Homo sapiens: one gene and its partners. The protein of the gene in region 1 purifies or fractionates together with the protein of each later gene. This does not show direct contact. Each region holds a gene or a part of one and is shown in the gene's direction. Other genes may lie near its edges. The genes, in order: NEK4, CORO1C, SPTAN1, CPNE9, SYNRG, HACE1 and FAM83C.

Region 1 (3,500 bases):
GCCTCGGACTCTCAAAGTGCTGGGATTATAGGTGTGAGCCACCGCGCCTGGCCTAAATATGCCATCTTGATAAAGTCTGTGCCCTATGAATATTAGTCCAAACCACTTTAATACAGAGGGATAAGATGGCTGCACATAGACACCTAATAACGTCTGCTCCGCAACCAAGGTAAATTCAGCAAGAAGAGAGTATTTCAGGTGGACGAGTCTGTAGGAAGCATGCATGCCATTTGTTGACTGTGCTGCTGGGACAGGCTCCGTAGGCTTAGTTATGGGCAAAGCATTTTTGGGAATAGAAGGCAGCTGTTTCTTTGGCATAGTTCATCAAAGACTGGTTTTTGCATCCCCTGCCAATGTTTTCAGCTTCAGATCGTTTCCATGTAGAGCTTGTAGACATGCTCCAGAAAGAGTACATAATGTGTACTCCAAACAAAGAAATTCAGTAGTATGTCATCAGACTCTTCCGTCCTCAGCATTCAATTTACCAGCCTTCCGGGCATTGTGCCTCACCTCTGTGCCTTCAATGTAGAGTTCCCAGCTGCCTATCACCTTTGTGGCCCAGCGGCATCTCTGGCCACAGTGCCAGTCCTGCCCCTGCTTGCTCCCTGCCCTGTCCTGGCTTACTTCTTTTCTTTTCTGAGACAGGATCTCAACTGTGTCAACCAGGCTGGAGTGCAGTGGTGTGATCACGGCTCACTGCAGCCTTGACCTCCCGGCTCAAGCAATCCTCCCACTCAGGCTTCCAAGTAGCTGGGACTACAGGCACTTGCCACCATGCCCAGCTAATTTTTTGGTATTTTTTATAGAAATGGGGTTTCGCCATGTTGCCTAGGCTGGTCTCAAACTCCTGAGCTCAAGTGCTGGGATGATAGGTGTGAGCCACCACACTTGGCCTGGCTTATTTTACTTAGCATGTTTTCAGGGTTCATTCGTGTTTTAGCATGTATCAGAACTTCATTCCTTTTTATAGATTAGAAATATTCCATTGTGTGTGTGTGTGTGTGTGTATATATATATATATATTTTTTTTTTTTTTTTTTGAGGCAGGGTTTCACTCCTGTTGCCCAGGCTGGAGTGCAGTGGCGGGCTCTCGGCTCACTACAACCTCCGCCTCCTAGGCTCAAGCAATCCTCCCGCATCAGCCTCCCAGGTAACTGGGACTACAGACATGCACCACCACACCTGGCTAATTTTTGTATTTTTAGTAGAGATGGGATTTCACCATGTTGCCCAGGCTGGTCTCAAGCTCCTGGCCTCAAGTGGTTCACTTGCTTTGGCCTCCCAAACTGCTGGGATTACAGGTGTGAGCCACCGTGCCTGGCAGTATTTACCACATTTTGTTTATCCCTTCATCTGCTGATGGACTTTTGGGTTGTTTCCGCCTTTTGACTATTTTAAATAAAGCTGCTGTAAACATTGGTGTACAAATACTTAACTTAAATCCCTGCTTTCAGTTCCTTGGATTACATACTTAGGAGTGGAATTGCTGAGTCATATGTTAATTCTATGTTTAACTTTTTGAGGAACCTCTTGTTGCATTTTGAGTTGATTTTGTATAAGATATGAGGAGTGCTATAATAATTTCCAAACATCTTTTCATTCAGGGTGAAGGCAAATGTTTGTCCCAGGAGAAACCCAGGGCCTCTGGTCTCTTGAAGTCACCTGCCAGTCTGAAAGCCCATACCTGCAAACAGGACTTGAGCAATACCACAGAACTAGCCACAATCAGTAGCGTAAATATTGACATCTTACCTGCAAAAGGGAGGGATTCAGTGAGTGATGGCTTTGTTCAGGAGAATCAGCCAAGATATTTGGATGCCTCTAATGAGTTAGGAGGTATATGCAGTATTTCTCAAGTGGAAGAGGAGATGCTGCAGGACAACACTAAATCCAGTGCCCAGCCTGAAAACCTGATTCCCATGTGGTCCTCTGACATTGTCACTGGGGAAAAGAATGAACCAGTGAAGCCTCTGCAGCCCCTAATCAAAGAACAAAAGCCAAAGGACCAGGTGAGTGATATGCACACATGAGATACTGGTTTTGGAGAGAAGACTGAAAGTGCAGTTACAAATATGTGGGTTCTGTTGTCATTTTAGGAAAATCAGTAATTCTATGTATCAGTTTAAACATAGAAGAATATTTGCATCAAACCAAAAAGAAACCCAGTACCCTATAACAGTCACTCACCATTCCCTCTTGCCCACAACTCGTGGCAACATTTGTCTCTATGGATTTGCCTATTCTGAGGATTTCATATAAATGGAATCATACAATTTATGGCTTTGTGTGTTTGGCTTCTTTTTTTCTCTTTTTTTTTTTGAGACAGAGTTTCACTCTTGTTTCCCAGGCTGGATTGCAATGGCGCGATCTCGGCTCACTGCAACCTCTGCCTCCTGGGTTCAAGCAGTTCTTATGCCTCAGCCTCCTGAGTAGCTGGGATTACAGGCATGCGCCACCACGCCCAGCTAATTTTTTTTTTTTTTTTGAGACAGAGTCCCACTCTGTCGCCCAGGCTGGAGTGCAGTGGCGTGATCTCGGCTCACTGCAACCTCCGCCTCCCGGGTTCACACCATTTTCCTGCGTCAGCCTCCCGAGTAGCTGGGACTACAAGCACCCACCACCACACCTGGCTAATTTTTTTGTATTTTTAGTAGAGACGAGGTTTCACCGTGTTAGTCAGGATGGTCTCGATCTCCTGACCTCGTGATCTGCCCATCTTGGCCTCCCAAAGTGCTGGGATTACAGGCATGAGCCACCGCACTCGGCCGATGCCCGGCTACTTTTGTGTTTTTAGTACAGACGGGGTTTCTTCATGTTGGTCAGGCTGGTCTCGAACTCCCGACCTCAGGTGATCAGCCTGCTTTGGCCTCCCAAAGTGCTGAGATTACAGACATAAGCCACTGGGCCTGGCCTGCCTTCTTTTACTTAACCTGATGTTTTCAAGGTTTATCTATGATGTAGGATGTACCAACATTTTATTCCTTTTTTAAAAAAATTTCATTTTTTAATTTTTTGAGACAGGGTCTCTGCTGCTCAGGCTAGCGTGCAGTGGTGCAAACACAGCTCACTGCAGCCTTGACTTCCTGGGCTTAAGTGATCCTCCTGCCTCAGCCTCCTGAGTAGCTGGGACCACAGACATGCCCTGCTAATTTTTTTATTTCTATTTCTTGTAGAGAGATGGGGCCTTGCCATGGCCATGTTGCCCAGGCTGGTCTCAAACTCCTGGGCTCGACAGTCCTCCCAACTTGGCCTCCCAGCGTACTGGGATTATAGGCATGAGTCACTGGACCCTGCCTCATTCCTTTTTATTGCCAAATAATATACTGTATTTGTATTTGTGTGCCTGTGTGTGTGTGCATGTGTGTGTATACACACACATATATGTATTTTTTGTTTGTTTGAGTCTCACTCTGTCACCCAGGCTAGAGTACAGTGGCACGATCTCAGCTCACTATAACCTCTGCCTCCTGGGTTCAATGATTCTCGTGCCTCCGTCTCCC
Region 2 (3,500 bases), on another chromosome or scaffold:
AGCTCAGCGGTCCTCCCCTTGTCTTCCACTCTTGTGGCTCTCTGAGTGGGGGGAAGCAAATGTGTTTTGGTTGTGTGCTATATGGTTTTAAAGCAGATTATTAGGAAACCATGGTGAAGAGTATTGGGGTGCACTGCTCCCCCAGCCCACATACATACTTGTGTGTGTGTGCACGTGTGTGTGTTTCAAGGCCATTTCGACAACCTGAGGAAAGCTATGAATTTCCTGCTATAATTTCAGCAGGTTTCATGGTTCCTGCCAGGGCCCTCCATGAACCATAGTTTTGGTTATTTCTGATATGGTAGAAGGTGTACTTTGTTGGGAGCCAGAAGCCCTGTGTTCCCTCTGTGGTGTTGCTGCCAGCTTTGGGAGACCCCTATTAGGCAAATACACTCCTTCCTTTTAAAGAAAACTTTGATTTTCCCCTGCTATACAATTAGTACATGTATACTGTAGAGAACATATATAAACAAAAGGAAAAAAAAATCACTTTTAATCCCACCACTCAGAGAGAAGATCATTATTACTTTTTTGATGTTTCTTTCCGAAAGATATTTCTGTGCACATACATAAATTATTTTACATACAGAGATGGGTTCATACACTTTACACATGGGCTGCTTTCTGCACTTGGTGGTAGGCTGTGACCCTTTTCACGTGCCATTAAGCTCTCTTCCTATTTTTAATGACTTCATACTAATCCATTTTCTGGATATACCTCATTTTACTTGATAAGTCCCCTATTTCTGGACACTGGTGTTGTACAGAAATCTTTTCCTTTATCTAAAATTGGAGATTTCATTTTCTTTTATGAAAGCAATACAGAGAGCATGAGGGAACTTTGTGGGGTGATGGAAATATTCTGTATCTTGATCATAGTAGTGGCTACATGAGTTTATACATTTGTTGAAACTTAGCAAATATATACTTAAAATGGGTGCATTGTATTGTATGTAAGTTATACCTTAATAAAAGTGGTTTATTTAAAAAGTGATACTAATGTTAGAGATAGGATTTTTAAAGGTCTTTCCCCTCACCAGTAAAAAGGAGGAGGGGCAGTTCAGTTTTTAACTGGGAATACACAATGTTTATGACTCATAGTGAGTTAAATAAAAAATTATAATGCCAAGTAACTATTGAAACTAAGGCCCACTTTTCAAAAAAGATGCCATGTTTTTTATAATCACCATCGACTATACTTGGGAATCATTTTTGATGTTCTCTCAGAACCTCAGTCTGATTAAGGAGAGGAAAAAAATTCCAGAGCTGGAATTCCTTCATGGAAAATTCCCTGCTACCTTTCTCATCAAGGCTCAATACAGGGCAGCAGCAACAGACTGGTCTGCATTCTCCCTTTTACATGTGAAGGAGAATGGGTGATTGTCGTGTTCTGCATATTTTTAGGCTATATGATCCAGCTGCCGGGGCTGAAGTTACCTGTTTGCCTATAGGGAAGAAGGCAGAGGAAGGTTCAATTGTCCATCCCAGAGTTTAGCTTCAACTTTTGTTACTGTTGTGTAGTTTTTTTCTCCAGTTTCCTACTTCTTTTTTTTTTTTTTTTTTTTTTGAGATGGAGTTTCGCTCTTGTTGCTCAGGCTGGAGTGCAATGGCATGATCTCAGCTCACCGCAACCTCCGCCTCCTGAGTTCAAGCGATTCTCCTGCCTCAGCCTCCCAAGTAGCTGGGACTACAGGCATGTGCCACCACACCTGGCTAATGTTGTATTTTTAGTAGAGACAGGGTTTCTCCATGTTGGTCAGGCTGGTCTCCAACTCCTGACCTCAGGTGATCTGCCCGCCTCGGCCTCCCAGGGTGCTGGGATTACAGGCGTGAGCCACCGTGCCCGGCCAGTTTCCTACTTCTAACCCTTAGGTAACTTAAGTATCCTGGATGTTAGTGACTATTTTTTCTAAATGATTTCCAAATTGCTTTGTTGGCAAGAATCCACCTCTAGGATGTCCTTCCCGTATTTTGCTTCATCCTTGAACTAACATCCTAGGAGCAACACATGCTGCCTCTTTTTAAAGGGGCCTGGAGGCGTGGGGCAGACCCTTGAAGGAAGGAAGGAGTTGGTGAGCTGAGATGGTGAATGAGTTGACATTGTGGGCTTCTTTCAGAATCCGTTTCTGAATCTATGTAGCTACTTGATTACAGTTTGGGCTTCTCACCATGATCAGAGCAGTCTTGGCCTATTTTTCTCTTCATTTAAAGGTACAGATCTGTTGTGAGCAAACAGGCCTTACTCTTGGCTTTTCCCTTCCACTGTTGTACCATCTTTAATATCCCAAAGCTGTGTCTTAGAGTCTCACTGATTTGAATAACCTGCCACCCAGAGTTTTTGTTGAGTGCCCTAAACAGTCATTTAAACCTTTTACTTTTAGTTTATTTGGCACGTGAAAAGGGTCACAGCCTACCACCAAGTGCAGAAAGCAGCCCATGTGTAAAGTGTATGAACCCATCTCTGTATGTAAAATAATTTATGTATGTGCACAGAAATATCTTTCGGAAAGAAACATCAAAAAAGTAATAATGATCTTCTCTCTGAGTGGTGGGATTAAAAGTGATTTTTTTTCCTTTTGTTTATATATGTTCTCTATAGTATACATGTACTAATTGTATAGCAGGGGAAAATCAAAGTTTTCTTTAAAAGGAAGGAGCGTATTTGCCTAATAGGGGTCTCCCAAAGCTGGCAGCAACACCCTGATGCTTGTTTTACTAGAAAGGGAAACTTGAAGTCACTTGGGTCTACCAGCCCAGTTAACTCTTTAAAGAAAATAGGGTTCTGTTTTGGTGTGGTTCTTTGTTTTTGTTTGGTTGATTGTTTCATATGAACCCAAACTTAACAAGTTGTGTTTTTACTTTAACACTTTTATTTCTTTTATACAAACTTTTTCCTTTGTCACTTCAGTTTTTAACGCTGTTAGTAAGTAGGGCCTCTGGTAGGGCCTCTGACAATCAGCCGCATCTTTTCTCTCTCTCTCTTTCTCTCTCTCTCTCTCTGCATATACATATGTGTATTCTCACTGTATCTGTAGTTTTCTGAGTGTGTTACATAGGTGTTTCTAATCTTCTAATCTCTGATGGTTTTGCCTGTTTTAGGCTGTGATAATGCCATTATCATCTGGAATGTGGGAACAGGGGAAGCCCTTATAAACTTGGACGATATGCATTCAGACATGATTTACAATGTGAGCTGGAACCGGAATGGCAGTCTGATCTGCACAGCTTCCAAAGACAAGAAAGTGAGAGTCATTGATCCCAGGAAACAAGAGATTGTTGCTGTGAGTATTCCTAGGATGAAAACTCAGTAGTTGGAGCACTTGAGTGAGTGTGAGCTTTCTGCTTTTTAAGGCAGGCAGCGGTACTGGTCAGTGGGACCCTGTTGTGTGTAGACACCAACTGTGAATAAGAGAAGGCTTATAAAGGCTTCTGTCTCCCCAGTTGTGCTTCTCTCCAGAGTTGTAAATTTTCCAGCTTTTACTCAAGTCTCTCACTTTGTA
Region 3 (3,500 bases), on another chromosome or scaffold:
TTTCAGATACCCAGCTCCCCAGAGACAGCCTGTTGTGGCTTGGCAGACCTCCCACCTACTGACGTCAGCTGATCTACTGCAGGAAAGAAAAGTCCATTATTGCCTGACCAAAGCACTTGGTATAGAATTGACTCGTTCTACTTCACTGGGGTGACAAAGAGGGCCTTTTAGGTTGGTTAATTTCAGCAGGGCCTTGCTGAACTGTCTCTCTGGATTGGCAGGATCAAATCAGCAAGCTGGGCCCAAGCAGGGGGACTTGCTCAGATGGAACCTTTGCGATATTATGATGGAGATTTTCTTATCATAAAGGGCTGTTCCCAAATGTGATTTAATTTCTGTAGCAGGTAAAGGATTTTAGAAATGCAGTGACTCCTGTGATAGGAGGCAGAACAGCACCATACACTCGAATCCTGGAGACTGCCATCTCTTTCAGGAGCTCGTGTGCAGTGTCGTTATTGTTCCATGTGTAACTATGCCTTCCTTGGAAAATTTCTTTACAAGAAAATTTTGGAAGCAAACAAATTAGATGCATAATTTCTCAATGTTTTTCCATCTTAACTGTTTCCTGAGGGTTGAGAACAAAGGAAATATATAAATAAATAAGTCTAACCCTAATTGTTTACCAAGACTCAATCTTAAATAATTTTGATTTTTTTTTTTTTTGAGACGGACTCTTGCTTTTTCGTCGCCCAGGCTAGAGTGCAGTGGTGCGATCTTGGCTCACTGCAACCTCTGCCTCCCGGGTTCAAGCGATTCTCCTGTCTCAGCCTCCCAGGTAGCTGGGACTACAGGCGTGCGCCACTATGCTTGGCTACTTTTTGTATTGTTAGTAGAGATGGGGTTTCACCATGTTGGCCAGGCTGGTTTCAAACTCCTGACCTCAGGTGATCCACCCGCCTTGGCCTCCCAAAGTGCTGGGATTACAGGTGTGAGCCACCCTGCCTGGCCGATAATTTTGATTTTTAAGAAATGATTAATACATCCACATCCACCTCACCTTTTTTTTTTTTTTTAAGAGACAGAGTCTCGCTCTGTCGCCCAGGCTGGAGTGCAAAGGCGTGATCTTGGCTCACTGCAACCTCAGCCTCCCGGGTTCTGGCAATTCTCCTGCCTCAGCCTCCCAAGTAGCTGGGATTACAGGCGCACGCCGCCACACCTGGCTAATTTTTTGTATTTTAATAGAGACGAGGTTCCACCGTGTTGCCCAGGCTTGTCTCGAACTCCTGAGCTAAGGCAATCCACCCCCTTCAGCCTTCCAAAATGCTAGGATTACAGGTGTAAGCCACCGTGCCCGCCTTTTTTTTTTTTTTTTGACACGGAGTCTAGCTCTGTCACCCAGGCTGGAGTGCAGGGGCTTGATCTCAGCTCACTGCAAACTCCGCCTCCCAGGCTCAAGGGATTCTCCAGCCCCAGCCTCCTGAGTAGATGGGACTACAGGCATGTGCCACCACACCCAGCTAATTTTGGTATTTTTAGTAGAGACAGAATTTTATCACGTTGGCCAGGCTGTTCTCAAACTCCTGACCTCAGGTGATCTGCCCGCCTCGCCTCCCAAAGTATTGGGATTACAGGTGTGAGCCACTGTGTCTGCCTCACTGTTTTTTCACTCCAAAGTGCAGATGTGAAAAGGAACTAATAAAGAGGGAGTGAAGGCCGGGTGCTGTGGCTCACGTCTGTAATCCCAGCACTTTGGGAGGCTGAGGTGGGTGGATCACCTGAGGTCAGTTCGAGACCAGTCTGGCCAATATGGTGAAACCCAATCTCTACAAAAGTACAAAAATTAGTCGCGTGTGGTGGCGGGTGCCTGTAATCCCAGCTACTGGGGAGGCTGAGGCAGGAGAGTCACTTGAACCTGGGAGGCGGATGTTGCTGTGAACCCAGATAGCATCACTGCACTCCAGCCTGGGCAACAGAGCAAGACCCCATCTCAAAAAAAAAAAAAAAAAAAAGAAGTGAAAGGAACTAATAAATAACCAAACAGCCATCAATAAATAATATGTCGGCCAGGCACGGTGGTTCACGCCTGTAATCCCAGCACTTTGGGAGGCCGAGGCGGGCGGACCACAAGGTCGAGATCAAGATCATCCTGGCCAACATAGTGAAAGCCTGTCTCTTAAAAAGAAGAGAAATACAAAAATTAGCTGGGCGTGGTGGTTTGTGATTGTAGTCCCAGCTACTCGGGAGGCTGAGGCAGGAGAATTGCTTGACCCTGGAGGCGGAGGTTGCAGTGAGTCAAGATCGCACCACTGCAATCCAGCCTGGCGACAGAGCAAGACTCCATCTCAAAAAAAAAAAGGCCAGGCGCGGTGGCTCACGCCTGTAATCCCAGCTCTTTTGGAGGCCGAGGCAGGCAGATCACGAGGTCAAGAGATCGAGACCATCCTGGCTAATATGGTGAAACCCCATCTCTGCTAAAAATACAAAAAATTAGCCGGGCGAGGTGGTGGATGCTTGTAGTCCCAGCTAGTCGGGAGGCTGAGGCAGGAGAATGGCATGAACCGGGGAGGCGGAGCTTGCAGTGAGCCGAAATTGCACCACTGCACTCCAGCCTGGGCAACAGAGCGAGACTCCGTCTCAAAAAAAAAAAAAAAAAAAAAAAAAAGAATATGTCAATATGTCAACTCTAATCATGTTAAGAATCACTGTGTCTATTGTGCCATATTCTGGGAACCGGAGGATCCCAGGTCATCCTGGCCTTTGCAACTTGCTTACTAAATTACCTGTCTCCCAACTACTTAATTATAAAACGATGGCAGTTTCTTTATTTCCAAGCTCTGAATATAATTGGATCTATAATATGTGCCAAGTCCTGAGTTCTGTGCCCAGAGAGTAAGAGTAAAATATGGTCTTCTTTAGAGTTCCTTAAAGGACTTATGAATGTGGTAGGGAGAACACAATAATTTCATGGCAGAATGTGGCAGTGTTATAAGATGAATGATAGAGGTGGGTGGTCAGGGAGTGGAGACTTCTGATTCAGAAAGACTTCATAGAGGACGAGGCATTTGCTTTGGACTCAGAGATCTGTATGATTTGTTTTTTATATTTTTTATTTTTTTGACAGGCTGGAGTGCAGTGACGCGATCTGGGCTCATCACAACCTCCGCCTCTCAGGTTCAAGCGATTCTTCTGCCTCAGCCTCCCGAGTAGCTGGGGCTACAGGCGCGTGCCACCACACCCGGCTAATTTTTGTATTTTTAGTAGAGATGTGGTTTCACCATGTTGGCCAGGCTGGTCTGGAGCTCATGACCTTGTGATCCACCTGCCTCGGCTTCCCAAAGTGCTGGGATTACAGGCGTGAGCCACCGCGCCCAGCCGAGATCTGTATGATATTAGATGGTAGGGTTGGGAGTGGGAGAGGAGAGTGCACTCCTGGGAAAGGGAACTTTTTGAGCTTTCAAATGGACCCTGTCCAGGACCTGTAATTGGTGTTGGTGAGGGAGCTTGACATGAGATACGGCTGGAGGAGACAACTGGAAGGTGACTGAGTGAAGTCTTGTTTA
Region 4 (3,500 bases), about 43 Mb from region 1:
GAGAGAGAAAGGGGGTATAAGGAGAGATGGAGAGGTGAACAGGTGGTGAGTCATGAATGGATGCATAGATCCATGAACAAATGGAGTGGGTACATGGGTTGGTGAGTATAATAGGTTAGACAAGTAGATGCATCGATGGGTATGTGGGTGGACAAATGGACTAAAGTTTAAGTTGGGGAAATAACAAGTAATTAGGGGAAATGCATGAGTGGATAGATCCATATGAGAATAGACAAGGGAATGAATGGAATGGAGAGGGCTGGCTAGCCGGATGGATAAAATAATACTGTTGTATAGATGGGTGGAAAATGAAGAAAAATGGCAAGTAGACAAGTGGGTGGATGGATGGATGGATGGATGGACTGATGGATGGATGAGTGGGTAAGTGGATAGCTGCATAAGAGAATGGAGAGATTGGTGGATAAAGATGTATAAGTAGACTGAAAGATAGATGTATGGCTAGGTAGATGGGTGGATGGATGTGTGGGTAGGTAGGTAAATGGATGAATAGATATAGGGATGGGTGGGTGGATAGATGGATAAATGAACAAATGGATGATTGGGTAAAATAAGGAGGGAGGACATGGGTAGAGGGCAGATAAATGGATATAGGTGGATGAATGCACACAAAGATAAGCAGGTGAACAGATGGATGATCCAGATGATCATGAGGCTGGGGTTCCTGTGTCCCTACAGGGAATCCTCTGCAGCCTACCTCCCTGCACTACATGAGTCCCTACCAGCTCAGCGCCTATGCCATGGCCCTCAAGGCAGTGGGAGAGATCATCCAGGACTATGACAGTGATAAGCTCTTCCCAGCTTATGGCTTTGGGGCCAAGCTGCCCCCAGAGGGACGGATCTCCCACCAGTTCCCCCTGGTATGGTATTGGCCAGAGCTTACCCTCCGTGCCCTGGCATCTGGTTCACCCAAGTTGATGATTTTGTTCTGTTTACATTACTTCAAAGGGCATGTAGAGGAACAGGAAGCTATGAGAGGATAGCAGAGCAGGGAGGGGAGCAGGGCTGGGTTTGGAGGGGAGCATGAAAGGGACTGATGGAAAAAGGAAGGAGTGAGCTGGAATCAGAGCACTCCTGCATGTACCCTGCATGGGCTCAGCCTGGCAGGGCATATTCTTTGACAGAACAACAATGATGAGGACCCCAACTGTGCGGGCATCGAGGGTGTGCTGGAGAGCTATTTCCAGAGCCTGCGCACAGTGCAGCTCTATGGGCCCACCTACTTTGCTCCTGTCATCAACCAAGTGGCCAGGTAAGGGAACTGGGTGGAAGCTGGGGGAAATGAGGGGACCCACATAAGGGATTGACCCCCCAAGGATAGTCAGGAGCACTCTAAGTAATTTAGGATGATTTGAAGTAAACAGGAGAGGCCAGGCATGGTGGCTCATACCTGTAATCCCAACACTTTGGGAGACTGAGGCAGGAGGATCACTTGAGCCTAGGAGTTCAAGACCAACTTAGGCAATTTAGTGAGACCCCATCTCTTTTTTTTTTTTTTTTTTTTTGAGACAGAGTCTTGCTCTGTTGCCATGCTGGAGTGCAGTGGCATGGTCTCGGCTCACTGCAACCTCCGCCTCCCAGATTCAAGCAATTCTCCTGCCTCAGCCTCCCAAATAGCAGGGATTACTGGCGCATGCCACCACACTTGGCTCGTTTTTGTGTTTTTAGTAGAGACGGGGTTTCACCATGTTGGCCAGGCTGGTCTTGAACTCCCAACCTCAAGTGATCCACCTGCCTCAGCCTCCCAAAGTGCTGGGATTACAAGCATATGCCACCATGCCTGGCTCATTTTTTTAAATTAAATATTTAAATTAAAAAAATTAAAGTATACAGGACGATGTGTATAGGTTATATGCAAATACTACACCATTTTATATGACGGACTTGAATATCTGAGGAGTTTGGTATCCACAGGAGTCTTGGAACCAATCCCCCGTGGATACTGAGGGATGACTGTACCTTATTATGCGGCACAAAGGGTGTCAGCAAATTACCCTAACCCCACTGCCTGAGAATGACAAGCTGGGGCTTGAGTTTGGGTAAGAGAGAGAAGAGCCTACAGCACTGTGGTGAAGGCGTACGTTTTAGCATCAGATCTGAGTGGGATCCTTCCTCCACCATTCACTAACCATCTGACCTTAAGCAACTTCGCCTCTTTAAGCATCCATTTCATCCCTGTAAGGTGGTGTCATAATGGATGACAATAGCAGCTTCCTTATAGAGTTATTGCAAGGTTAAAATTAGATAATAGTGTAACAAGTATTAGCACAGTGTCTGGCCCATGGTACATGCTCCATAAATGATAAGTTAAAAACTAGATGAGTGACTGTCCAAATTTTCAGAATAAAACTATACAAAGCAGGCCAGGTGTGGTGGCTCACACCTGTAATCCCAGCACTTTGGGAGGCCGAGGTGGGTGAATCATGAGGTCAGGAGTTCAAGACCAGCCTGGCCAAGATGGTGAAACCCCGTCTCTACTGAAAATACAAAAATTAGCCAGGCGTGGTGGTGGGCACCTGTAATCCCAGCTACTTGGGAGGCTGAGGCAGAGAATTGCTTGAACCTGGGAGGCAGAGGGTGCAGTGAGCCGAGATCACACCACTGCACTCCAACCTGGGCGACAGAGCAAGACTCTGTCTCAAAAAAATATATATATATACATATATATATATATGCACACACACACACAAACCAAAGAAAACCCAGATCATACATCAAATGGCTTAAAAAACCAGAGGGTATTAAAATAAACTTAAAACGAATTTATGAAATGACAGAACTAAAATCAAACATATGTCAATAAACATAAATAAGCTCTGTTTGACCTTAAAAAAGAAAAAGATTATTTGATTGAACAAAAAATAAGCAAACCCCACTTTATAGTAAACAGAAGAAACCCAGCTAACACAAAGCCCCTCAGAAAGCTCAGAAGTAAAAAGATTAAACAAAAAGGGAATAAAAGTGAAAGGATTTCAGTGAGATTTATATGTCCATAGACTTTTTCCCCTAGCGAAGATTTGTTTTTTTTTTAACTTTCCTTTTAAGTTCAGGGGTACATGTGCAGGTTTGTTACATAACAAACTTGAGACATGTGACACATGGGGGTTTGTTGTACAGATTATTTCATCACTCAGGTATTAATTCTAGTAGATTTATTTTCTAATTTGCAGTAATGATAATAGATTCTTTAATCATAACCGTAGAAAGTTTCAATAGAGAAATGAAGAAATCACCCTGAATACTGCCCATGGAATGTGGATGTATATACAGTTCTTTTCCTTATGTATCCATAATTATAGTCAAATTATTATACATATAACATTTCACTACTGATTTTTTTTTCACTAATACTGGAACCTGAGCATGTTTTTGTTGTTATTAAGCTGACTTCTTAAATATTATCTTATGCAACTACACTAATTCAAAATTTATTCATTCATTTAGTAAACATTCAGTAAAGGGGCAATGCACCATTGAGTGTG
Region 5 (4,255 bases), on another chromosome or scaffold:
GGAAGGGAAGGAGTGAAATTAGTGAACAGGCAGTTACAGCAAAAGAAAAAACATAAAAATTGAATAGCTGGCTCTGGTGAAATGAGCAAGGACTTTAGAGTCAAACTGGCCTGGATTTGAATCCTGATCCTCATTGCTTGTAGCTGTATGATCTGGACAAATGACAGTAACTGTTTCTAACCTTGATTTTCTCATCTGTAAGATGCCAATTGTAACTCCTAAGGATACTGAGGATTTTTTAAAATGCGTGTACAGTTCCTGACCAGTGGTTTGTGCCTAATAACTTATTACAAATTATTACCCAGTAAAAACCTTGAGACAAGAGTGAAAACGTAAAGCTAATTAATCCATTACTTGTTAGCAAGCAAACTACGTGCTTGAGAAAATTACTCAACTTTCATGTTTTACTTCCAGACAGTAGTTTGATTAAAAGAAAAAAAAAAATCACAGCCCAGGCATGTGGCTCACACCCTGGCACTTGGAGGCCGAGGTGGGAGCATAGCTTGAGCCTAGCAGTTTGAAACTAGCCTGGGCAACATAGATCCTATCTCTACAAAAAAAAAAAAAAAAAAAAAAAAAAAAATTGGCCCGGTGTGGTGGTGCATGCCTGTGGTCCCAGCTACTCAGGAGGCTGAGGCGAGAGGATCGCTTGAGCCAGGGAGGCTGAGGCTGCTGTGAGCCATGATCATGCCACTGCACTCCAGCCTGGACAACAGAGCAAGACCCTGTCTCAAAAAAAAAAAAAATCAGTAAAAAATATGCCGAAATAGCTTCAGAGTAATTATGAATTGCCTTCCAAAAACCACTGTTTTGCACTTGCCTGCAAGAATAGGAAAAACAAAAGGACTGTAAGGTGGCAGGATGGCAGAACCAAACAAGAGTAGTACACCTTGGAGTTTTTTCGAAATATGGGTTGGGTTTTTGGGCTCTTGGTTGATTTAAAATAAAATTTAAATGCCTTCAGCGTCTGTGATAGGTGCCAACATGAAGCTACCGAGTTCCAGAGAAAGAGGGGAGAGCTGATCACTCATCAGTGCTGCGAGACTATCAAAGGGCCCTTCAGGACCTATCTGTTCTTTGTGTGTAAAGAGTAACAATAAAAGAACACCAGTGTACCCACCGTATAGTTTAAAAATCAGGACTCAGCCTACTCTTTCCACTAACCGCGATCATGGTTTTCAAACGGAGGACCAACGGCGCTTTGCCACTGGGCCGCCAGCTGGGCCCTGCAGAGGGCCTACCAGACAATGAATCAGCTCCCTTGGAGAGGCGCCCGCGACCGCCCCACCAGCCCGAGAGCTAGAATTGAATCTGGGGGACCCCTGCGGCGCCGGGTCACGTGCCGTGGGCGCGCCACGCCTCCCCGAGGGCCGGGGGAGTCACGTGGGCGCGAGGCCCCGCCCCATCGCCCGGTCCGCGGCGAGGTGGGGCCTGGTGTTTGACCCGGAAGTGGCTGTGTTCAGCTGACAGCTGCTGATAAGGTGGCGGCGGCGAAGGCAGCGGCAGGTCGGGAGCAAGATGGCGCTGCGGCCAGGAGCTGGTTCTGGTGGCGGCGGGGCCGCGGGAGCTGGCGCGGGGTCCGCCGGGGGAGGCGGGTAGGTGTGAAGAGCCGGGCGGGAGCCCGCTGGCCTCCGCGGGGGCGGCGAGGGGCGCTTGGCAGTTATGGCAGTTTTCTCCAGCCCTGATCCTTTTCCTTGGAACTGGGCTGCGGGAGGAGGGTCATCCCCCAGGGACCCAGGCCGAAAGGGGCGTGTGGAGCCCAGGTGCTGGACGCTGGTGTTCCGGGATCAGTTGGGGGCGCCGGCCGCCTGGAATCGAGCGGGGAGCGAGCGCGCGCCCAGTGTGGGAGGGGAGAGAAGATGAGGGTCCTCTTGGGGTGGGGGGGGGCGGGGCAAATCAGGAACCGCGACTCCGCTCCTAGTCCTAGCTGCCTCTGAAGCGACCAGGGTCTTCCCTTTCCTTGGGCTTTCTAGACTTAACCGGATATGTTGGAGGGAGGGCTTTAAAAATCTGTTCACAAAGCTGGAGGACTGTTTCCAAGGGGGGTGTGTGTGTGGACTATTTGTCTCTTCCCCTTTTAGAGTGTCCTGTCCTCTTTATTTCCTTAACCCGCGACAAACAGCAGGAACATCTAAAGACCTCTGAATTAGTAATGGTCTTGAGATAGAGTTCTTGTCTTGTACACTAACTCTTAAGACTTGTCTGTCTTCTTTTTAAAAAGGCATTTAAAAACAAAGAAAGTGCACTGTTAAACAGCAGTTGCGCATTTATTAGAACAAAGCTTCCAGACTCAGCCCTTAAACAAATCTGCCCTCTGCCACATTTCAGCCAAGAACTGCCGTGGTTCTTATACCCAGAATGGTAAGGGAGATGTACGTTTTACAAGCTGACAGATTCGTTATCATTTAAGGAAATATTTTATTCTAGGAAGTTTTCACTCCACTTCTATAATGACCTAGTCTGATTTTGTTTTACTAACCAACACACAACAGCACACACATTTGGAGGTAAAAGTAGCTTTGCATCTTCAGTATCCTAAATTGTCTTTGGAAAACGAAGTGTTAGGTTTTTTTTTTATATGCAGTGTTTCAATTTCGGAGTCGTGAACACTACAAAAGTGTAAGGACCTTAAAGTTATCACCTCTTGCAGGTGCTTGTCAGGAAACGAGCAGTGGCTGTTCAATAAACCACCTGTGTGTAACCCCATTTTTCATTTCCTCTGCACATCTTTAACTTTAGATTTTTAAACTTTTTGCTTTCTCTTTTGTTCTCTCCGTTGTTTCATTAGAGGGTTTTTTAAAAAATAAATACTTCGTGTAAGCCAGTTTCTGGCTGGAGAAGAAACATATGTAATAATTCCCTTCTATTTGTTTTTTCTTTTTCTTTTGTCTTGTTTTTTTTTTTTTTTTTTTTTTTTTGAGAGGAAGTCTTGCTCTGTTGCCCAGGCCAGAGTGCGGCGGCGTGATCTCGACCCGCTGCAACCTCTGCCTCCTGGGTCCAAGCGATTCTCTTGCCTCAGCCTCGGAGCAGCTGGGATTACAGGTGCGCGCCACCATGCCCGGCTAATTTTGTTGATTGATCGATTGAGACAGAGTCTCGTTCTGTCACCCAGGCTAGAGTGCAGTGGCACGATGTCGGCTCACTGCAACCTCGACCTCCCGGGTTCAAGCGATTCTTCTGCCTCAGCCTCCCAAGTAGCTGGGATTACAGGCGTGCGCCACCACGCCCAGCTAATTTCTGTATTTTTAGTAGAGACGGGGTTTCACCATGTTAGCCAGGCTGGTCTCAAACTCCTGGCCTCAAGTGATCCGCCCACCTTGGCCTCCCAAAGTTCTAGAATTACAGGCTTGAGTCACCACGCCCGGCATCCTCTATTTATTTCCTATATGTGATTACAGTTTCTAAAATGTCCCTGGATGGTATTAATTTGATCAAGTATATGATTAATCATGGCACCAAGTTCTGGGAAAATGTAAACTTAGAAGAATTGATATCTAGGCCCAAATTTTTATTTACTTAAAAAATGTTTTTGGATGGGGAGGACCTCAGGTTCAGAAATTCAAGTGCATTATTCCCTTTAGTTTGCAGTATTTGAGTATCATTGGTCCATGGACACAAATTTTTAAAATAAATATGGGTTGAATTTTGATAGAAATTAGAATGATTTTAAAATTTCCCCCCTTTGTAAATGTAGCAACATCTGCATTCTAAAACTGTAAACGATATACAGGAGAGAAAGAAGTGGTTAAAATGATTCTTACCTTGAAAAATGTATGGTACATATGTTACATATATTGGCAACTTTCTGAGGCTGAGAAGCTGTATCCTCAATAGAAAAAGGAATATTATTTTTTTTAGAGAGTAATGGTGTAAAGGCTGAAGTTATTTTATTTCCTTTTTAATTTTCTTTTTGCCACCCACCCTCCCTGAAATTATTTTATAAGGAAACTTAACATTATGGCAACCTAAGTATATTTGAAGAAAAAAAACAGGCAACTTCTCTACACCTTTAATGGAGAAAATCCATGAACTATAACTGACTGTATTGTTTAGATACTTCTCTATATTCTAAGAGGCTAAGCAAAACACAATAACGTTTTCCAAATTTAATATTACCCTACTTTTGATTGGTGTCCTGGATGAGCTACTTTAGAATAAATGGTAGAGTTGTATAAAGGGCAAAATTTGCCCAAGAGATGAGAAGTATAAATTTTTTTTTTCTTTAATCAAGGCAGAAAAAAAAAAGAGTTGAAAG
Region 6 (3,500 bases), on another chromosome or scaffold:
CTTTGATAAGAGAACCATAAACATGATTCTTATCTGTGAATACTATATCTGGTGAGGTTTGTCACTCCTTTCAGATATATATGACAAAGTGGAAAGATCTAGTAACAATTGTATTCCAGTGCTTTGGGAGACTAAGGCAGGGGGATTGCTTGAGGCCAGGAGTTCGAGACAAGCCTGGGCAACATAGTGAGACCTCATCTCTATAAAAAATAAAAAAATTAGCCAGGCCTAGTTTTGTGTGGCTACAGTCCTAGCTATTCTGGAGGCTGAGGTGGGAGGATCACTTGAGCTCTGGAGGTTGAGGCTACAGTGAGCCAAGATGACATTACTGCCCTCTAGCCTGAGTGACAGAGCAAGATCCTATCACTTAAAAAAGAAAAAAAAATGTGTATGAGGTATATCTATATTTATGCTTGCATCTCCTAGCAGCACCCCCCCTTACTATGACATGATTTTTGTTTAGATTTTTAAAATATTATTAATTTTTTTGTATTTGTGTATTTTAATGAAATCTAGAAAGATGGAAAATATTGAATAAATAAGAATAAGTAAGAATATGCTCACATTGAGGATATACCCTTCATTGTGCATCTCACCAGAGGTGGGAATACTATTTTAATATTAAAGAGCTTGAAACTTTTGTTTCTCAGTTTAATACTATATATATTTACATTTTGTTTAATTGCTTGGTTGATTAGAGGCTAACTTTTTTAAGTAATTAGGAGTGTTAATAGCAGGGTCTTGATTATTAATGTTATACATTCTCAGCTTTCATTTTTTTTATATAAACATTTCTCACAATAAATTGAGCCTTTTTTTTCTAATGTTACCAGTATAGTAATTGTGTATCAAATTGTTGAGGTTTCAACATATAATGCTTATTTAATAAATAACCTGATTCATATAAAACTCTTAAAAATCTTTAGAAACACATCACATTTTACCTTGCTTAAAATTGTTAAGATATTCAGTTTACAAAATGTTACTTTAAAATTTTCAAACCCTGTTTCTTGGAAATACTATTGATTTTTGGTTTGTTCTTTTTTTTTGCTTATACATTCTGTTATGAACTTTTCTGTTACTTTAGAGTCAGCTTTTTACTTTATAGGTAGAAAGTTTTTTTGTCATGTTTAGAGTTCGACTTTATAATTTTGAACTATTGAAACTTAAATGACTTGCTAAACTTGTTAGAGGGCCTTTGTAAACTGATCTCCACATGGGGGAGTCCCTTATTCCCAAGTTTTATTAAAAGGCTTTGGTGATTATAAAGTGAAACCAAATAGATGAAAATACCTTTAATTTAAAAAGCAATATGTTAAATAAATACAAGCAATATAGGCAGATGTATATATATTAGTTCCACATTTGAAATATAATACTCTTAAATTAGTTAGATATGGCCTCTTTTGCTCATATTTTCAGTTCTAGCATTTAGAATTGAAGCTGTAGGGGTTTAAATGTTAGCATCACTTTTATAATATTAGTCATAAAGTTCATCCAGGCTTGGAGAAAAAAAAGAAGATAAGAGTAAGATGGGGCAGGTATCAGGGAATGGATGAAGTGGTATGGAAGTTGAATTATAGAGGTGAAGCATTAAGTGGTCGAGTAGGAGTAAGGATGGGAAGAAGGAAATGTTCTGGGCTTACAGGAAGGCACAGAGGTGACAGAGCATGCTTTGGGAAACCACAAGTAGATCAGAGTTGTGGAGCTTAGCTTAGATGGAAAAGTAAGCAAGTAGAAAAAGATGATGTGGGGAAGGGAGAAAGTGGCCAAATTCTGAAAGACTTTGCATCCACAAATAGTACTTTGAAAATTATTCTGAAGTCTGTGGAGATGATTGCAGATGTTAAAGAGGGAAATGACATGATCAAATTTCAGTTAAGAAAACAAAAAGAAACAACCAAACTCAGCTTGGAGTGTGAAAAATGGGTTGAAATGGGGCGGTACTAGAGTCAGGACAACTGAGAGGAGGCTGTGGCATTTTGGTTTGGGGAAGCATGCATGAAGAATTATGTAAGGCAAGTGGCAGTGAAGATGGAGAAAATGGAATAGCTTTTAAGCTTTTGAGGATAATAGAATTTATAGAACTTGGTAATTGGGAAGATGAGAAAGAGGAAGGACTCAAGGATAACTGCCACTGTTGTGGATTGGGCCACCTAATGTCTGATAGTGTTGCCATCATACTCTTCATCAACCTCATTATCATTAATTCTGTTTTTTAGTGATAATAATTACTACTTATTGAGTGCTTTGTGTTTCATGTATCTGAACCATGTTCTTTATGTTTCTCATTTCCTGTAACAGCCTCTTGAGATAGCTATTTCTCTTTATTTAGTGTGGAAACAGCCTTAATATTAAAACATTTGACATTTATTAGGTTTTTATAATGTGCTAGGCACTGTTTGATGTGCCTTATGGGTATTATACTTAACTCTGTGAGGTGGAGATACCCCTTTCTACAGGTGAGGAAACAGAAGCATATAGGAGCTAAGTAGCTTTCTCCATGCAGTCTGTAAATTTCAAGCCTGCTTGTGCAGGGGCCATCCAGTCTTCTCTGTATGGTTCCAATATTAGTATACGTGCTGCTGAGACAAGCACTTGAGCCTGCTTGTAACTACAACACTGCATTTCTTTAGACGTTAAATAACTGCCCGAGGGCACAAAACTTGTAACTGATGTTTTCTTATTTTAAATGGATGTCTATAAGACAGTGTAACTGCTAGGCTTCTCATTTACTAAGGCAGTGAATGTGAACAAAGTAGCAAATACAAATTTAGTATGTTTTAACGATTTCATTTTAATATGGTTTTATTGCTAGTCTTATATGATTAAATTTTTAGTGCTAGCTTTGCATGATTTATTTAACATACACATTTAATGCACATACAAGCACAAAATACAGACTTTTATCCATAGATTATTGACTTAAAGTGGATTCTTTATATGCATCTTTAGAAAAGTATACAGGTTGAGCATCCATAATTCAGAGTACCCCAGAGTCTGAAACTTTTCGAGTACTGACATGAAGCCATAAGTGGTAAATCCCATACCTGATCTCATATGACCAGGGGGCACTCAGAACACAAGCATACAACATACAGTTGTTTCAGCATCCCCAAAGGAAAAAAGACCCTCCCAGCCCCCTTCTGCTGCATATATATTTTTTCTTCAACACACCAAGATTCCATCATGCAAGCATGCCCACAAGGGTAATAAATGACATGTGCAGGACGCATATGCCAAGAGCAGGTTCCCCACTGTGCCCCACGTGGGGCCAAGGCCGATGTGCATTTGTGCATTACTCATGTCTTTTCTTTTCTTTTGCTTATTTTCTGCTCTGTGGTGCAGAGGTATTGTTGGGAATGTCAAAAAGGCCTGCAGATACCCCTGTGGGTAACAGTGACAGGGAAAAGAGGGAGCATTTGTCTTTATCCGTAGCACAGAAAGTCAAGCTGTTGGAGAAACTGGACAGCAATATAAATGTGAAATGTCCTACAGAA
Region 7 (3,975 bases), on another chromosome or scaffold:
GTCTCAATTAAAAAAGAAAAATGGCCAGGTGTGGCGGCTCACACCTGTAATCCCAGCACTTTGGGAGGCTGAGACAGGAGGATTGCTTGAGGCCAGGAGTTCAAGATCAGCCTGGGCAACATAGTGAGATCCCATCTCTAAAAAAATTTTAAAAGTAGCCGAGCATGGTAACATGCACCTGTAATCCCAGCTACTCAGGAGGCTGAGGTGGGAAGATCGCTCGAGTCCAGAGAAACTGAGGCACAGCTGTAGTGAGCTGTGATTGCGCCACTGCCCTCCAGACTGGGTGACAGAGCAAGACCCTATCTCAAAAAGAAAAAGAAAAAAGACAAGCTCCAGAAGCCTACGGACACCTTCTGGATGAGAATTTCCAGGAGGGTGGGGCCCGGGGATCTGCATTTCATCACCTCTCACCACCCCTGGGGTCAGGGTGAGAGCCACTGCTCTAGGTTCTTGAAGGACAGCTCCGAGCCGGGGTGGGAGAGAGCCAGGGGGCTGTGAGCACCACAGTTAAGATGATGGAGAGTGGCAGGACGATTATGGGAGCAAAAAGAGGGCTGGCTGGGGGACAGACCAGCGTTGATGTCCTTGGATATTCCATGTGACAGTCGTTCAGCTCTCAGGGCCTTGCAGACTTGAGCCAGGGCACGTGCTATCCACTGTGGTATGTGTTGTGGGGGTCATGGCCGGTCTCTACATCGGCGTTTGGGTGAAGAGTTTATGCAAGTGGATGTGATTACAATGTGTGGTCGGTCTGTGTCAGCCCACACTCCATGTCTGTGTATCGGTCAGTTGTCAGTGTGTCCATCTGCATGGGTGTTCATGTCTTTTCCTGGGTGTCTTGAGTCGCTCACCCACCTGCAGTGTGTGTGCGTGTGCGTGTGAGTGTGTGTTCCTGAGTCGCCTGGGCCCCTCTTGGCTGTAATTCAACCTCTGTGGGTCCCGGGAAGTCAGCATTTGGAGACTTGCTGGGAGCCTGGTGGGGATGGGGCGGCGTTGCTGGGAGGAAGAGAGGGAGGCAGGAGTGTGCACCGAGGGCCTGGCACTGCCGCTTCCCTGGGCAGGCGAGTCCCAACACAGGCAGACAGGTGGGGCTGACCTGACAGGTTCCAGAGGCCAGGGGCAATAGGGTGGAGCGTGGCTCTGATTTAGGGTGGCAACAGTTTGGGGGCCCTGCCACACACACAGCGAGCGGGCGGGCAGAAGGCGGTTCTGCTGGTCTCCTCTTCCTGCTGCAGCCAGCCCAGCGTGCGGGCCATGGGCCCTGCCGGCGGGTGAGGCAGCCGCGTGGCAGGCATGTTCGGAGGCCCGGGGCCTGGGGTCCTGGGAGCCCAGGGCATGGCGGGACCCCTGCGGGGCCGGGTGGAAGAGCTGAAGCTGCCGTGGTGGCGGGAGAGCTCACCGCTGGTGCTGCGGCACAGCGAGGCGGCTCGGCTGGCGGCCGACGCCCTCCTGGAGCGGGGTGAGGCTGCCTACCTGCGGGTCATCTCCGAGGAGCGGGAGCTGCCCTTCCTGAGCGCCCTGGATGTGGACTACATGACCAGCCATGTGCGCGGGGGCCCTGAGCTCAGCGAGGCTCAGGGGCAGGAGGCCTCCGGGCCAGACCGCCTCAGCCTGCTCTCTGAAGTCACCTCAGGGACTTACTTCCCCATGGCCTCTGACATAGACCCCCCAGACCTGGACCTGGGCTGGCCCGAGGTGCCACAGGCCACAGGCTTCAGCCCCACCCAGGCTGTGGTCCACTTCCAGAGGGACAAGGCCAAGAACATCAAGGACCTGCTGCGCTTCCTTTTCAGCCAGGCCCACACGGTAAGGGCCTCATCTCTCCATCACTCATCTCACAGAGGAGGAAACTGAGGTCCAGAGAGGGAAGGGACCAGCCCAAGGCCACACAGCGACTTAGGGGCAGAATGAGGACCAGCACCTCTGGCACTATTAGATTGCAAACTCCTAGAAGGGGGACATCCCATATTTACCTTGGCAACTGCTTGGTACCCAGGAATAGTATGGATGAGCATAGAACAGGGCATGGGTGTCAGGGACTCCACAATCCCCTGAAATGCACACGAAGTGGTGCAGGTTGGAGGGAGGAGTCCTCGCTGCATCTTTACCTTGGAAGATGCTCCACTGCCTTAAATCAGATTCTCAAAAAGTTTTATGATCCCCACACTAAGAACTCCAACCTTGGGGAACATCTGAGTCACCTCCTTCACTTATAGAAGAAGAAACTGAGGCCAGAGAGGGGCTTGGGACTTGCCCAGGGAGGTCCATATGGTGACATAGAGCTCAGGGCTTGGGGAGACAGGGGCTCTCTGACTTGGGTCCTGGGGACCAGTCCGGCCCTCCTTGCTGGCTCAGGTCCCTAGTTGCCCCCTACCCTCCTGCACCACATCTGCAGCTGGGCCTGAAGCAGGGGAAGGGGCCAGCGTGTGGGCCTCTTTGGCGTGGCCTTGAGGGCTGGGCTTTGGAACCAAGGAGGAAGGAGGAGAGGAGGCTGCTGGGCTCAGTGATGGGGAGCGGGAGCTCAGGAGAAAGAGAATTGGGAGGGCAGGTAGGGGTGGTCAGCACCCAGAAAGGCTCTGGCCACACACGAGCACAGCTTCCCTTCTGAAGCCCTGGCCTCCGACTCCAGGGGAATGGACGAGATGATCCCTGGCAGGGTTTGAGGGAGAGTTAGGCTCCTGCTGCAGAGATGGGAAGCCAGGATGCTGGGATCCCACCGGTACTTCCAGAGCCTCCCTGGCAAGCCTTCCTGTGCCCCAGGCAGGGGACGGCCAGGCCTGATTGGCATCAGGAATGGGGTTATTAGTGAGGCTGCTGCTGTCGTCCTCCTCACCCCTGCCTCTTTGATCTTCCTGCCTGTCCTTGTTCCCCCACCCTGGCCAGGCCTGTGCTGTGAACTAGGGCATCCCCCAGTGCCTCGCCTTCTCAGCCCCCATTTAGACCCCTCTATCCTGGGTCAGGAGCCAGGTTCGTGCACTGGGCTGTCATGACTCCTAGTGACCTTGGGAAATGCTGCGTTGCCCTGCAGCCCAATGTTTATAGAGCTCTGTTATGTCTTGAGCATTTTCACATTTAATTCCCTGTAACTCTGAGACATGGCTATCATTATCTCCATTTAACAGATGAGGAAGGTGAGGCTTCCAGAGGTGAAGGGACTCACCCAAAGCTGTGTCACCAGGAAGTGATAGAGTCCAGGTTTGAACCCAGTTCTTTCTGACTCCAGAGCTGGAGTGCTATGCTCTGTACCTCCTGCCTCTCGGCCCTGCCTGGGAGAGAAGACTCTCATAGCAGATATATGCCATGGGAAGAAAGGCCAGCTGGGGGCTGGGAGGTGCCAAGAAGGTTTCAGGGGCCTCTTTGAGGCAGCCCTTTATATGGGATGGAGGCACAAGCCCCAGCCCAGCCCTCAACTGAGCAGAAAACTTGGATCCATTTGGCATGGGTGCAAGTAAGGGAGTCTGCAGTGTAAGGGGTCACACCAGACCTCTGTGGCTTCACAGGGAAACTGAGGCAGGACTGGGAAAGGGCAGCGAAGACCCCAGTAAGTGGCTTGTAGCTGTGACCCTGGAGAAGGGAGCCTCAGACAGACAGTCCCTGGGTCAGAGCTGGGCTGGAGTTAGTCGGGGGAGTGCCAGGAACTTGCCTGGGAATTGGGGTCTGGGTTCTCCTTCTCACTGCTGTCCCATCTGGGGCTCAGTGCAGAGGGAGTGTTGGACTAGCACAGCTGATCCACAGTCATCTTTGAGAATCTGATGATGGATAAACACTCGGTGCACAGAAGGATGCACACAAATGCTTTCAAACAGCTAGGGGTTCAAGACAGTCAAATCTGGGCTGGGATTTGACTGTAATCCCAGTGCTTTGGGAGGCTGAGGTGGGAGGATCGCTTGAGGCCAGGGGTTCAAGACCAGCTTGTGAGAACCCCATCTCTACAAAAAATTAGAATTAAAAAAAAACTAGCGACTGGGCGTG

Evidence for each region.
Region 2: the proteins of NEK4 (region 1) and CORO1C purify together in Homo sapiens (affinity purification with mass spectrometry; one large-scale study listed by BioGRID and IntAct). This does not show direct contact.
Region 3: the proteins of NEK4 (region 1) and SPTAN1 purify together in Homo sapiens (affinity purification with mass spectrometry; one large-scale study listed by BioGRID and IntAct). This does not show direct contact.
Region 4: the proteins of NEK4 (region 1) and CPNE9 purify together in Homo sapiens (affinity purification with mass spectrometry; one large-scale study listed by BioGRID and IntAct). This does not show direct contact.
Region 5: the proteins of NEK4 (region 1) and SYNRG purify together in Homo sapiens (affinity purification with mass spectrometry; one large-scale study listed by BioGRID and IntAct). This does not show direct contact.
Region 6: the proteins of NEK4 (region 1) and HACE1 purify together in Homo sapiens (affinity purification with mass spectrometry; one large-scale study listed by BioGRID and IntAct). This does not show direct contact.
Region 7: the proteins of NEK4 (region 1) and FAM83C purify together in Homo sapiens (affinity purification with mass spectrometry; one large-scale study listed by BioGRID and IntAct). This does not show direct contact.

What each region holds. Positions count from the first base shown.
Region 1 is NC_000003.12:52,750,441-52,753,940, reverse strand, and holds part of NEK4 (serine/threonine-protein kinase Nek4), read left to right. Parts: intron 1-42; exon of another isoform or gene 43-415; intron 416-1,604; coding exon 1,605-2,009; intron 2,010-3,500. UniProt on the Homo sapiens protein: Protein kinase that seems to act exclusively upon threonine residues. Required for normal entry into proliferative arrest after a limited number of cell divisions, also called replicative senescence.
Region 2 is NC_000012.12:108,658,519-108,662,018, reverse strand, and holds part of CORO1C (coronin-1C), read left to right. Parts: intron 1-3,099; coding exon 3,100-3,281; intron 3,282-3,500. UniProt on the Homo sapiens protein: Plays a role in directed cell migration by regulating the activation and subcellular location of RAC1. Increases the presence of activated RAC1 at the leading edge of migrating cells.
Region 3 is NC_000009.12:128,559,087-128,562,586, forward strand, and holds part of SPTAN1 (spectrin alpha chain, non-erythrocytic 1), read left to right. Parts: intron 1-3,500. UniProt on the Homo sapiens protein: Fodrin, which seems to be involved in secretion, interacts with calmodulin in a calcium-dependent manner and is thus candidate for the calcium-dependent movement of the cytoskeleton at the membrane.
Region 4 is NC_000003.12:9,717,333-9,720,832, forward strand, and holds part of CPNE9 (copine-9), read left to right. Parts: intron 1-696; coding exon 697-878; intron 879-1,117; coding exon of another isoform or gene 1,118-1,142; coding exon 1,143-1,270; intron 1,271-3,500. UniProt on the Homo sapiens protein: Probable calcium-dependent phospholipid-binding protein that may play a role in calcium-mediated intracellular processes. Plays a role in dendrite formation by melanocytes.
Region 5 is NC_000017.11:37,606,619-37,610,873, reverse strand, and holds the start of SYNRG (synergin gamma), read left to right. Parts: upstream 1-1,455; 5' UTR 1,456-1,518; coding exon 1,519-1,595; intron 1,596-4,255. UniProt on the Homo sapiens protein: Plays a role in endocytosis and/or membrane trafficking at the trans-Golgi network (TGN). May act by linking the adapter protein complex AP-1 to other proteins. Component of clathrin-coated vesicles.
Region 6 is NC_000006.12:104,765,920-104,769,419, reverse strand, and holds part of HACE1 (E3 ubiquitin-protein ligase HACE1), read left to right. Parts: intron 1-3,500. UniProt on the Homo sapiens protein: E3 ubiquitin-protein ligase involved in Golgi membrane fusion and regulation of small GTPases. Acts as a regulator of Golgi membrane dynamics during the cell cycle: recruited to Golgi membrane by Rab proteins and regulates postmitotic Golgi membrane fusion.
Region 7 is NC_000020.11:35,289,626-35,293,600, reverse strand, and holds the start of FAM83C (protein FAM83C), read left to right. Parts: upstream 1-1,175; 5' UTR 1,176-1,296; coding exon 1,297-1,809; intron 1,810-2,962; exon of another isoform or gene 2,963-3,198; intron 3,199-3,975. UniProt on the Homo sapiens protein: May play a role in MAPK signaling.